Regions from separate parts of the Homo sapiens genome. Here region 1 is linked to region 2. Evidence: fine-mapped expression QTL. A gene starts in region 2. The other region holds a variant in brackets. All regions are shown on one strand. Distances are from middle to middle. Region 1 overlaps VWF (von Willebrand factor). Region 2 holds the start of PLEKHG6 (pleckstrin homology and RhoGEF domain containing G6).

Region 1 (5,000 bases), 240 kb after region 2:
TAGGTGAGAGGTTCCGTTTTGTTTTTTTTCATGAGGCAGGATCTTTATTCACATAGAAATGGATCTGCTTTAACTTCTGGATTTTTTTTTTTTTTTTTTTTTGAGACAGAGTTTCACTCAGTCGCCCAGGCTGGGGTGCAGTGGCGTGATCTCAGCTCACTGCAACCTCTGCCTCCTGGGTTCAAGCAATTCTCCTGCCTCAGCCTCCCGAGTAGCTGGGATTACAGGCACCTGCCACCACACCCGGCTAATTTTTTGTATTTTTAGTAGAGACGGGGTTTCACCATGTTGGCCAGGCTGGTCTCGAACTCCTGACCTTGGGTGCTCCGCCTGTCTCAGCCTCCCAAAGTGCTGGGATTATAGGCATGAGCCATGACGGCCCGGCCTGGATGCTCTTTTTTTTTTAAATGCAGTTTTAGGAATCACCTGCCTTTCATTCATTCCCCAAACTTCCAGTGCCCATCTCCATCTAGTGGTGGGCCCGCTGTTCGTCAGGAGCTGCCTGTTGCTGACTGATGGGGAATATCCTAGTGTCCCATCCTGGGTGGAGGATGGGTGAGCGTGTTCGCATGGCCCATAGTTCTGGCTGACGTTCTAGCTCCCGTGGCTAACGGCTACCTGGCAGCTCACCCACCCATTTTCCTGTGTTTGTGGCTCTGTTGCTCAGTTGTACCGAGGAGATAAGCTCATATAATATTTAGACTTCTGATTTGCGAGAAACTTGGGAACACAAGTCAGTGAAGGTCAGAGAAGGAAATCAGATGAGACGATTAGATGCTGGCCCTGAAAGTTTTCCTTTCGAATATTTGCACATTTCTCGTTGACCCTTCTTTTCCTGGGTATTGTTAAAGAAGACAGAAGTCCATTTTCTTGCTTAGATAAGAGTGCTCTGAGAAAACACAGAAAGGCAGGGGGAAGAATTCCCACCCATTTTTACTGCCCTGGGGTCAAGACATTTGACACAAATGACCATATTACTGTGTTTGTAGAATGATGATAATTTCTGAAAAATGGTCAGTTCAAAAAGGCTTTCCTGAGACCTCACTGGACTTGAAATTACAGCACATCCAGAATGGGCTGGGACGATCCTGGCCCCTATCTTGTGGCCTGCTCTGTCCTCCACGAACAGTCACTCCTCACTCCCGCTCTTCTAGAGGGGGCAGCGGAGAAGGTGGGCCATGCTGATGGGAGTGATCTGGGGCCTTTCCACTTTCTCCTAATTTCCTCTGGGCTGGATGTGCCCTCCTGACCCATGCTGTCCTGGAAGGGATCCACTGTCCTGGGGACCAGGCAGAGGGATGTGTACATCCCTGAGGCACCTCATCCTTAATCCTGCCTTCATACACATCTCAAAGGCAGGCCCACACCTGGGTCCAGTACTGCACAGTCTAGCCTGGCCCCTGGCTGGGCCTGTCAGGGCACATGCGAGCATGAAGTGCCAGACAGTGAGGGCCTGTGGAGCTTGTCCTTGACAAGCTAGAATCTCTCTGTGCCTTTTGGGGACCCCTTGGCTGTGTGACAGGGCTAGCATTAGCCCCTGGAGCTGGGCCCACATAGGATGGTCTGTAGGACCCTCTTACATTTGTCTTTCCAACGTTGGTCTAGCATCTGTTCCCCAAAGGGGGAACTTCAGGTGGAGGCTGAGGTAGCGCTGTAGACAGCCAAGCTTCCGCTGTTTGGAGGGTCTCAGGGGAAGCCCTGTGCACTCTATGTGTCCTCATCTTTGCTTTGATCCTTAGAGAAAGGAACTCACACATGCACCGTAGAGTGACTGGGTGGGAAAAGTCTTCCTCCTTCACCAAATGGCAATGGTGTCTCTCTCTATATATATTTCTTTTTCTGTAGAGTAGATAGCAAAGATGAGAGCAGGTGGAGGAAATATATAGGGCAGGTTGGGAAGGGATCCAGATGCCCTTTTCAGCTTTGATGGGTCCATGTTTGGCCCTGAAGATGGGATTGCCTCAAGCCAGGCAGGTTGATGGAGAATCACTGGAGACATTGGCAGAGGCCTCCCCCTGCCAGGACACCTTCCAGGATGTGTGATCTCAGTTTGGAGGTGCATTGGGCCACAAGTATGGGGCCTAGGCTGGGGCGTGGGGGAGATGGTGTGGGAATTAGGGTGGGGACAAGCTGAGGGCTTTGGGTTGCAGGGTGATGAAGGGGAGTCCTAGTCCCCACCCACAGATGTGTCAGCCTGGGCTGGGAAGCTGGCGCTGCCGAGGTCAGCACTGCCTGGGTGGTGGTGAGATCATGGGCAGATGGCCTCCTGGTTCCCCATTGGCCCTGGCTGGAGTCACAGCGTGGGCTTGCCCCTCTGAGGACGCAGAAAGCAATGGCCTTAGAGTTGCCCCTCTGCTGGTGAGGAGGATGGAGTCCCCATTTTCACTGCTGAGCTCCAAGACTGTCCTGCCTCACCCTCCCACCTCATCCTGCCTCTGGGCTGCCTACTCTGCCCCCTGGCCTCCAGGGACTCTCCAGGGGTGACACTGTTTCCCAGAGCCTCTCCACACTCAGGTTCAGAGAACCCTGTGCTATTGGGCAGCCTCCCCCTGGCCAGGCATTCCGCTGGCACCAGTCTGAGGCTGGTGTGGCCCTGATGCCAGCAGGTAGCGTGGGACATGGCAGTGAGCTGTGAGGGAGGAGGGGAGGCTGCAGGGAGCCTGGAAGCAGGAGCGTGGGTTCCTGCGTGGTTCCACCACTGACTGAGTGTGGCTCTGTCACCTTCCTTAGTTGCCCCATCTGTAAAATGAGGCCTTGACCTGAATGACCCAGCTCTGACATCTTGCAGTTTTAGGAGCAGGAACCGAATTTTCTCGTAGAACTTGTTTTTAGACTGGTTTGGGCAAAGGACGTCCATGCAGTTTTGGGGAAGGGCACCCTGCTTGCATATGCATTCCACCTTGGCCACCCCAGGGGAAGTGCCCTCACCTCCCATTCTTCTCCCTTCCTCTGTGTCTCTCCAGGGGAGTGCCTTGTCAC[A/T]GGTCAATCACACTTCAAGAGCTTTGACAACAGATACTTCACCTTCAGTGGGATCTGCCAGTACCTGCTGGCCCGGGATTGCCAGGACCACTCCTTCTCCATTGTCATTGAGACTGTCCAGGTGAGCTTTGCCAGCCCGGCTGCTGGTCGGGTGGTAGCCCAAGGTGCTGCATAGCTGCTAGGCTGAATGGGCAGTCCCTGGAAGGCGTGGGGCATTGCTTTCTGTGCATGAGGGAGGTCTCTTCCAGACTTCAGTTAGCTCCTCATTCATCCAGAAACCCAGCCCATCCCCTCTCTCCCTAGATGCTGGCGGAAGGCATCCTGCCCTGACAATAATGCCTCCTCAGGGCTGGCTCAGCTCCCCACCCAGTGGACGCATCCTGCTTGGGTCTAGCCTGTTGCCCCCATAACTAACCCTCTGATGTTTGGAGCTGGGGATGGCTGGGGTGGGGGCAAAGAGGGCTGGTCTTCTCTTCTGAACTCTGTGGTACATGTGTGGCTTCCTTTCTGTAGGGATGGAAGCAAAGATGAGGACGAAGAGAATGCACAGGGCTTTCCTTGAGGATCAAAGTCTTTGATTCTCTTTGGAACAGTAGGTCCAAGGAACACGATGAAGCAGAGGCCCATGGTTCTTTATAAGAGACTGGGCCAGGCTGGGAGAAGGCGTGTGCAAGGATGCACTTAGCAAGCCTTCTTGCTGCACAACTCTAGGGGGCCCCATTCACATGGAGTATTCTGGGAGAATGGAGTTGTAGGTTATGAGAAGGCCAGAGGCTCTCGGGTTGAGGCCTTTCTCTGATTAAGAGGGTCCTGGGCTGGGGAGCTGGATAGGCAGGGGGTGCAGCAAAGTCACCCTGTGTTCCCTCTTGGCAGTGTGCTGATGACCGCGACGCTGTGTGCACCCGCTCCGTCACCGTCCGGCTGCCTGGCCTGCACAACAGCCTTGTGAAACTGAAGCATGGGGCAGGAGTTGCCATGGATGGCCAGGACGTCCAGCTCCCCCTCCTGAAAGGTATGCTTCGTCCTGCTCCATCAGGCCTGGGGCTGGCACAGCCCATCCCTTAGCACCCTCCTTCTCAACCCTGGCCACTGTCCTTAAGGACCTGCATGCCTCTTCCATGGGAATGTGATGGAGAGTTATTTTTGGAGGGCAGGGTGGGGTGCTTGGCATGCATCCCTCCAAGAAAGGAAGGCTTCCTGGAGGAGGAAGACTAGAGAAGGAAGCCTATAGATGAAGAGGTTGCTCTAGACCTGGGACAGAGTGTAGATGGGAAAAGGGAACCGAGAGGATTTTTATTTGGCTTGAACCAAAGGGGCGAGTTGAGTCTTGGGCAGGTGGTTCTGGTTTGCTCTGGGGTGGGACAGGGGCAGAGGCTGATGCTGAGAGATCGGGGGTGGCTGGTGATGTCACACCAGAGGATGCCACTTGGGGCGAGGCCAGGTGACCCTCTGGCCTGTCTAGAGGTAGCAAAAAACCTACCTGTCCAGTATCTTCACCTGGGTTGCACTGTGCCGGTCAAAGCAAACCTGCTTTTGCATGGTAAAGCTCCCAAACTTCACACTCAAAGTGGCTCTCAGACTCTTCCTTCTTCTCCACAACTGCTGGCCACTTTGTCGCCCATTATCCTAGCATTGCACACAGCGGATGAACTTGGGCTAGTGGGTACCCAGCACGTCCATGGGTGTTATGCTGTGTGTCTCCTTATAAGATATGTTTGTTCCCCCAGGGCAAGGGGTGTGCTCCTATCTGTCGCCACCTTCCCACAGAAGCAACAATTGCTGTATTCAGTGTCGTACACAGCATCGCTCAGACATGAGGTGGTGTGCAGTGGCAGAGTGTCCCAGGCACATTCAGATGTCGTGGTGTCAATGCTAAAGAGATCCCCCTCTGCTCCAGGGCACCTGCCTACAGCCCAGGATGCAGGAGCCTCTGCCTCCCTCCTGTGGCAGTAGGGGGAATGGCAGGTCATAGCGGGGGGTGCAGAGGCTTCTTCCTGGGGGACCCTATTTGCGCTCTGTCC
Region 2 (5,515 bases):
CTCACATGTGCAGCCTTCTCCCCAGGGGCGTGCAGCCTGCATCCCATCCAGCTGGGAGTGGCTGCCCTTCTGTGTGAAAGGCTGAAGCCACAGCCACACAGCTCCTCCCAGGGCAGGCCTGGTCACATTCCTTCATTTGCCTGTGGCCTGAATTACCCCACATACTTTCTAGTCTCCCTTCTCACCCACAGCCTAGGAAAGTCCCATCTCCAAAGGCAAAATTATCGTGCATTGAGGCAGGGGATGTCCCAGCCACAAGCAGAACTGTCCTCAAGGTGGAGGGGAAACCTGCAGGCTGAGGGACAGACCTGGCTTCCACACCCCTCTGCTTGGTTAGGACTGGAGGAGAGCCAGGCAGGTGGAGCCAGGGGTGGAGCCAAGGCAGGCACCCTCCTGTCCCTACCCACCACTGGAGGAGTAGGGACACCCTGAACCTTTGCTCATCTTCATCCTGACTCAGGGAGAGGCAGATCTCAGGAAGGCCTCAAACTCCTGCCAAGCAGAGGCGGGAGCCTGGGAGGCGCCAGCTCTGGGGTTTGATGACCTTACCCGCAGCTCTTTGTCTGAGACCTGTCTAACAGCACTCCTCGGAGGGCCTGGCTTCTCCTGGCTCCGCCTCTCCTGCCCAGCTGCTGGGACTGGGGTGTGATATCCCTGGAGCCTGGCCCTGTCACTGCCCTCCTCTTTCCCGCAACCCAGGAAAGAAGAGTAGGGTAAGGGGCAGGAATAGCTCAACCTCTGAACCTGTAAGGGGACAGAGACTCCACAGCCTAGGTGTCTTCCCTCCTGCCCCACCAGGTCACTTTTGGGGCACAGCCTGGACTCACCAGCACAGGGTATCCTCGGGGATAGAGTCTGCCAGCAGTGCTCTGAGCAGAGGCTCGATGCCGGCCCCCATAAGTCTCAATGCGGGAGGCCACGAGTCCTTGGAGGGGGCCCTCATGTGGAGGACCAAAGGCCTTCATCCCTTCTCTCCTGGGTCACCTCCAAAGGGCCATATCTTCAATGTCCAGGAGAAAGAGGTCCCCTAGGGCTGCAAGAGAGAAAAGAGGAATGGAAGGGCCATCCCCAATCAGTGAATGGCACCAGGCGGGAGACCAAGGCTGGTAGGGGGCCTGGGAGGGAGGGTATAGTGGGGGAGGAGAGGGCCAAGGGCTTGGTCACTTGTTGGGGGGAACATGGCTGCCTCATCTATGACTTGGTGGGAGTAGGGTAGGTCCAGGTACATATTGGGTAGGAAGCCCCTTGGAGATGTACCTCCTCTCTCACATGTGTGCATATTTGGGGTACAAGCTCCTGCACTGGTCTCAAATGGGAACAAGGGTCACAGACAGGTCTCGGGCTTTCTGGATACACCCAGGTGGGAGGGTTCTCCTTGCACCTAGATATAACCCCATCCCCTTCCCCATATAAAGCTTGGGAAAAAGCTGGAGGGAGGCCATGGTGGGTGGGGTGGGCTGGGAGTGGGGGTGGCTGGAGACAGCCCAGTCTGCCACCAGTTTTTGTACAGCCTGTAAGCCTTTACATATTTACATAGTTGAAACAACTGCTGCCCCCCCTGCAAAAAAGCCACCAATATTTTGGGACAAGTAAATATTACATGATATTCAAATTCAGTGTCCATAAACACAGTTTTGTTGGAATCCATCCTCTTCTGCTGGTCTCCTAATAACCTGTGACTGCTTCTTGCTAGTTGGGACAGACGGTGTAGGCCGCGAAGTCTCTAATCTTTACTGTCTGGCCTTTACTGAAAGGCTTGCCCATCTCCTACCTGAACCCTCCTGACCACAGACAGGGAGGTGAGTGGGGCCAGCTGTCCGGCCACTGCCCTTAGAGACCAGCCAAATAGAATTAGAGTTTCTCCAGTTTCGGGCTATATATTTGGTCCTCCCCAGACTCTGGGAATACCACCATGGAGCTGGGGGCCAGGCGTGGGGCTCCATCCCTCCCCCCTAAACCTGGAGGGAGGGCCCGCCCTCGAGTGGGCAGGGCCTGGAAGAGGAGAGGCCTCCTAAGGGGCGGTGGGCTCAAGAAGGCTGCGCAGGTGTTTGTGCCCCGACCGGGTGGGCCTGAGGTCCTGCCTCAGCCCTCCCTTACCTTCCTCCGATTCAGGAGCAGAGGAGGAAACGTTCGCTGTCCCTCCTGCCGCCTCCCAATAGTCCTCCCTCTGAGGGCGCTGTCTCCCTCGCACTGCTCCCTACCCAGGGTCCTGTCTCAGCCCAGCCCCCGGCTCCCCTCCTCCCGCCTTCGGGAGGCCAGGCCTTCCTTCCCCTTCGCCCCGGCTTCCAGGCCCCGGGTCCCGGCCGCCCCGCCCCCGGGCCGCGTAGCCCTCCCGCCGCTCACCTGTGCCCACAGGTGTCACCGCACCCGCTGCCCTGCGCCGCCCTCCCCGCCCGCGGGGCTCCCCGTCGCCGTCGGCTCCCCGGCGATGCCAGCCAGCCCCGATGCCCAGCCTGGGACTGGGATCGAGCGGCCCGCGGGAGCCGGGCAGCGCGGGTCCGGGCGAGGAGGGCGGGGACCGGGCTGGCCCCTCCCTACCGCCAGCACCGCTCGGGGCAGAGGGGCAGAGGGGCGGGGCCCTGGGGACCGAGCAGCCCCCGCCCTCACGCAGCCACCGCCTTCCCCGGAGAGGACAGCTCACGTGGCGGTGCCCTCCTTTCCCCTTTTCGGTCGCACCTGAACTCGACACCCGCCGGCCGAGCGGGAGGGCTGGGACCGCGCGCCCTCCACTCCGGGCCAGACCCCCGCGAGGCGCTGCAGTAATGAGGGCTGAGTAAGGGGCGGGGCGCCGCCGGGGGAGGCGGCGAGGGTGACAACCTGTGGCAGGCACCCCTCTCTCCTGCTGGTCGCGGCGAGTGGCCGGCCGTCCGGTCCTCCCCCTGCCTCGGCCTAGACCCCTAAGCAGGCAGGGAGCCCGCCTGCCAGCTGGAGGGGCAGGGGGCCCCGTCGCTGTGTGGAGTCCAAAGTGTGAGCCTTATCTCTCAGAGGACCGGCTGGCCTGCCTGGTGGAAGGTGATACTGGAAGGCTATCCTGGACTTTGCCTTTGCTCCAGGGATAGGCAGCTGAGGCCTGACCCGCACTTCTCCTATGACCTAAGACTCAGGTGGGGGCACCCTCCCAGTTCACCTGCAAATAAGCCCACTCCCGGCTACACCAGGGTCACCCAGCCCTTGCGGTGGCTGCTAAAATAGATGCTGTGGGGCCAGGCGCGATGGCTCACGCCTGTAATCCCAACACTTTGGGAGGCCGAGGCGGGCGGATCACAAGGTCGGGAGATGGAGACCAGCCTGGCCAATATGGTGAAACCCCGACTCTACTAAAAATACAAAAATTAGCTGGGCATGGTGACGGGCGCCTGTAGTCCCAGCTACTTGGGAGGCTGAGGCGGGAGAATCGCTTGAACCTGGGAGGTGGAGGTTGCAGTGAGCCAAGACAGCACTACTGCACTCCAGCCTGGGCAACAGAGTGAAACTCCATCTCAAAAAAAAAAAAAAAAAAAAAGAAAGAAAAAGAAAAAGATGCTGTGGAAGGACTGACACATGCTGGGCATTGCATGAAAGGACCATACTTTATTTTCTTTATTTTTAAAATTTATTTTTTAAAAAGAAAATAGAGACAATATCTTGCTGTGTGGCCCAGGATGGACTCCAACTCCTGGGTTCAAGCGATCCTCCTGCTTCGGTTTCCCCACCTTTTCACTTCTCCAAATCATGGCACCTCGTCTGACAGAAGCACTGGATATTTGAGATAGAAGTGTCCTGTGGATGTGTGGTCATTATAATCTCACAACCATGAAACCCAAGACCCTGTAGTTGGCAGGTGGCAGGTCTGAGGCTCCCAGCCCCTCACCCTGACTGTGGTCTATTTCCTGCCAATGAACTCAACAGTGATTGATACGGCTCCTTACTTCTTCAGAGCATCCTGAAGTTCAGGAAACACTTTCAGAAGCAGAATCTCCTTGAGTTGCCAGGGGAAAAGGCCTCTATTCCCTTTTCCCATCTAGGCTATGAAACGCATACATGATCAGAGTGTTCTAGTCCTCACTCGGACTCTGGTGACTCTATTTTGTTTGGAGGAGGAATCTATATCTTTGGGCAGTTTCTAATTTTGTATTCCCTGTGTCCATCCTCAAATCTGCCCTCTGGGATTCTCTTTCTCTGAGCTTGCTGTTGTGTGATTGCTCTGCTGGTTCAGAAGTGTCCTCTGTTCCTCCAGCTCCTTGAACCAGCCTGTCTCCTGCTCCTGGCCCAGCTGGTGGTGGGACTAGTTTTCGGGGGTGAAGTCAGGTGGGAAAGGAACTGCAGTGGCAAGAAACCAGAGTGTGCCTAGTTCCTAGCCCTTCCCTCTTCCCATTCACTGTGTGTGTGTGTGTGTGTGTGTGTGTGTGTGTGTGTGTGTGTGTGTGTGTGTGTGGTGAGAGCTAGACAGAGATAGAGAGATGTCCAGGGATGACAAGAGTAGCCATGAGGGAAAGAGTTAATAAGCCAGGAGAGGAGGTGGTGATTACGGACAGTATTAAATGACACCCCAGAGACAGCTGGTGCCAATGGCCCCTAGCTTCTCCTCCCAGTGTCTCCCAGAAGGAGTGGGAAGGAGGAATAAGAGGGAAGATGAAATTGAGAGAGCACCAAAGACAAGCCTGGGCTTACAGTGCTCTGGGGTGAGCTGGCTAGAGGGGCCCAGTGGCAGGTGGTGGTGGGTGGCGGGGTGGTTAACCCTTTCACTTCCCTCTAGGCGTTGAGGTCCAGTCTCCACCCACTACTGCCCCAGGGCCTGTCTTCAGCCTCCCTGGGAGGAGAGGTTCCCAGGGCAAGCTGGAGTCTAGAAGCCAGAGGTGTGGCCGGGCACAGGTGTGTGGCCTAGGAGGCAGGCCTCCATGTTCTGTTTCTTCTCTTCTGTCACTCTCACAGTCTCCACTTCCATGACTCCTCTGTGCTGCGGAGAGCACACTCCTATGGCAGGCTGAGGGGAGCATTCTCAGGGAGCTGAATGAAATGTAAAGAATTGGGAGGCTGGAGGCTTGGCCTCTGCCAAGTGAGGCTAGGGGCCATCTGGTCCTTGGACCAGAGTATGCCATCTGGATACTTCTCTTTATTCCTGGTTATCCTAGCCTTTCCTCACATGTCTAGCTTGAGTCATATGCCTCACTTTCTCCCAGGTAAGATGCTCCTCATTAGGCCCCTGGATTGACCCCATAACTGATGGTAAAGTGTGTGTCCACGGTCAGAGCTCTGAGGATCAAATGCTTCTGTCCAATAGCAGCCTGAGGATAACTGCCTGGGGTTGGCATAAGGGGCTCACCAGGCAGGAAGGTCAGGGAAACTCATTTGTGCCTCGACCTCTGCTGAGCCCATATCTCTCAGGGCAGAAGTGGGGACCATCTGGGCTAATGAGGGGCTGGCAGGCACTAGCAACAGGAGGCAGCTAATGGGAGCTGTGTCCTCCCTGCCCAGAGCGAGGCAGAAACTGAGGGTTCAAGCTAGGAGGCGCCAGGTCATGTGAGGCAGATGAATA

Evidence for each region. PIP is the estimated chance that this variant, and not a neighbour inherited with it, causes the effect.
Region 1: its variant is the best candidate, but not a certain one, in a credible set for the expression of PLEKHG6 in esophagus mucosa (GTEx, PIP 0.62).

The regions. Positions count from the first base shown.
Region 1 is chr12:6,063,237-6,068,236 of GRCh38, reverse strand. VWF (von Willebrand factor) reads left to right here. Exons shown (of 52, transcript NM_000552.5): 11 at 2,964-3,100; 12 at 3,853-3,991. Among named protein-coding and RNA genes, the nearest start is that of SNORA120, 26 kb to the right of the region's middle. The variant A/T (reference allele first, on the strand shown) is at 2,980.
Region 2 is chr12:6,307,677-6,313,191 of GRCh38, reverse strand. It overlaps PLEKHG6 (pleckstrin homology and RhoGEF domain containing G6), which reads right to left and starts at 2,510. Exons shown (of 16, transcript NM_001384598.1): 1 at 2,344-2,510; 2 at 828-1,033. The coding sequence starts at 965. RefSeq lists enhancers at 45-354, 2,976-3,696 and a silencer at 2,564-2,613.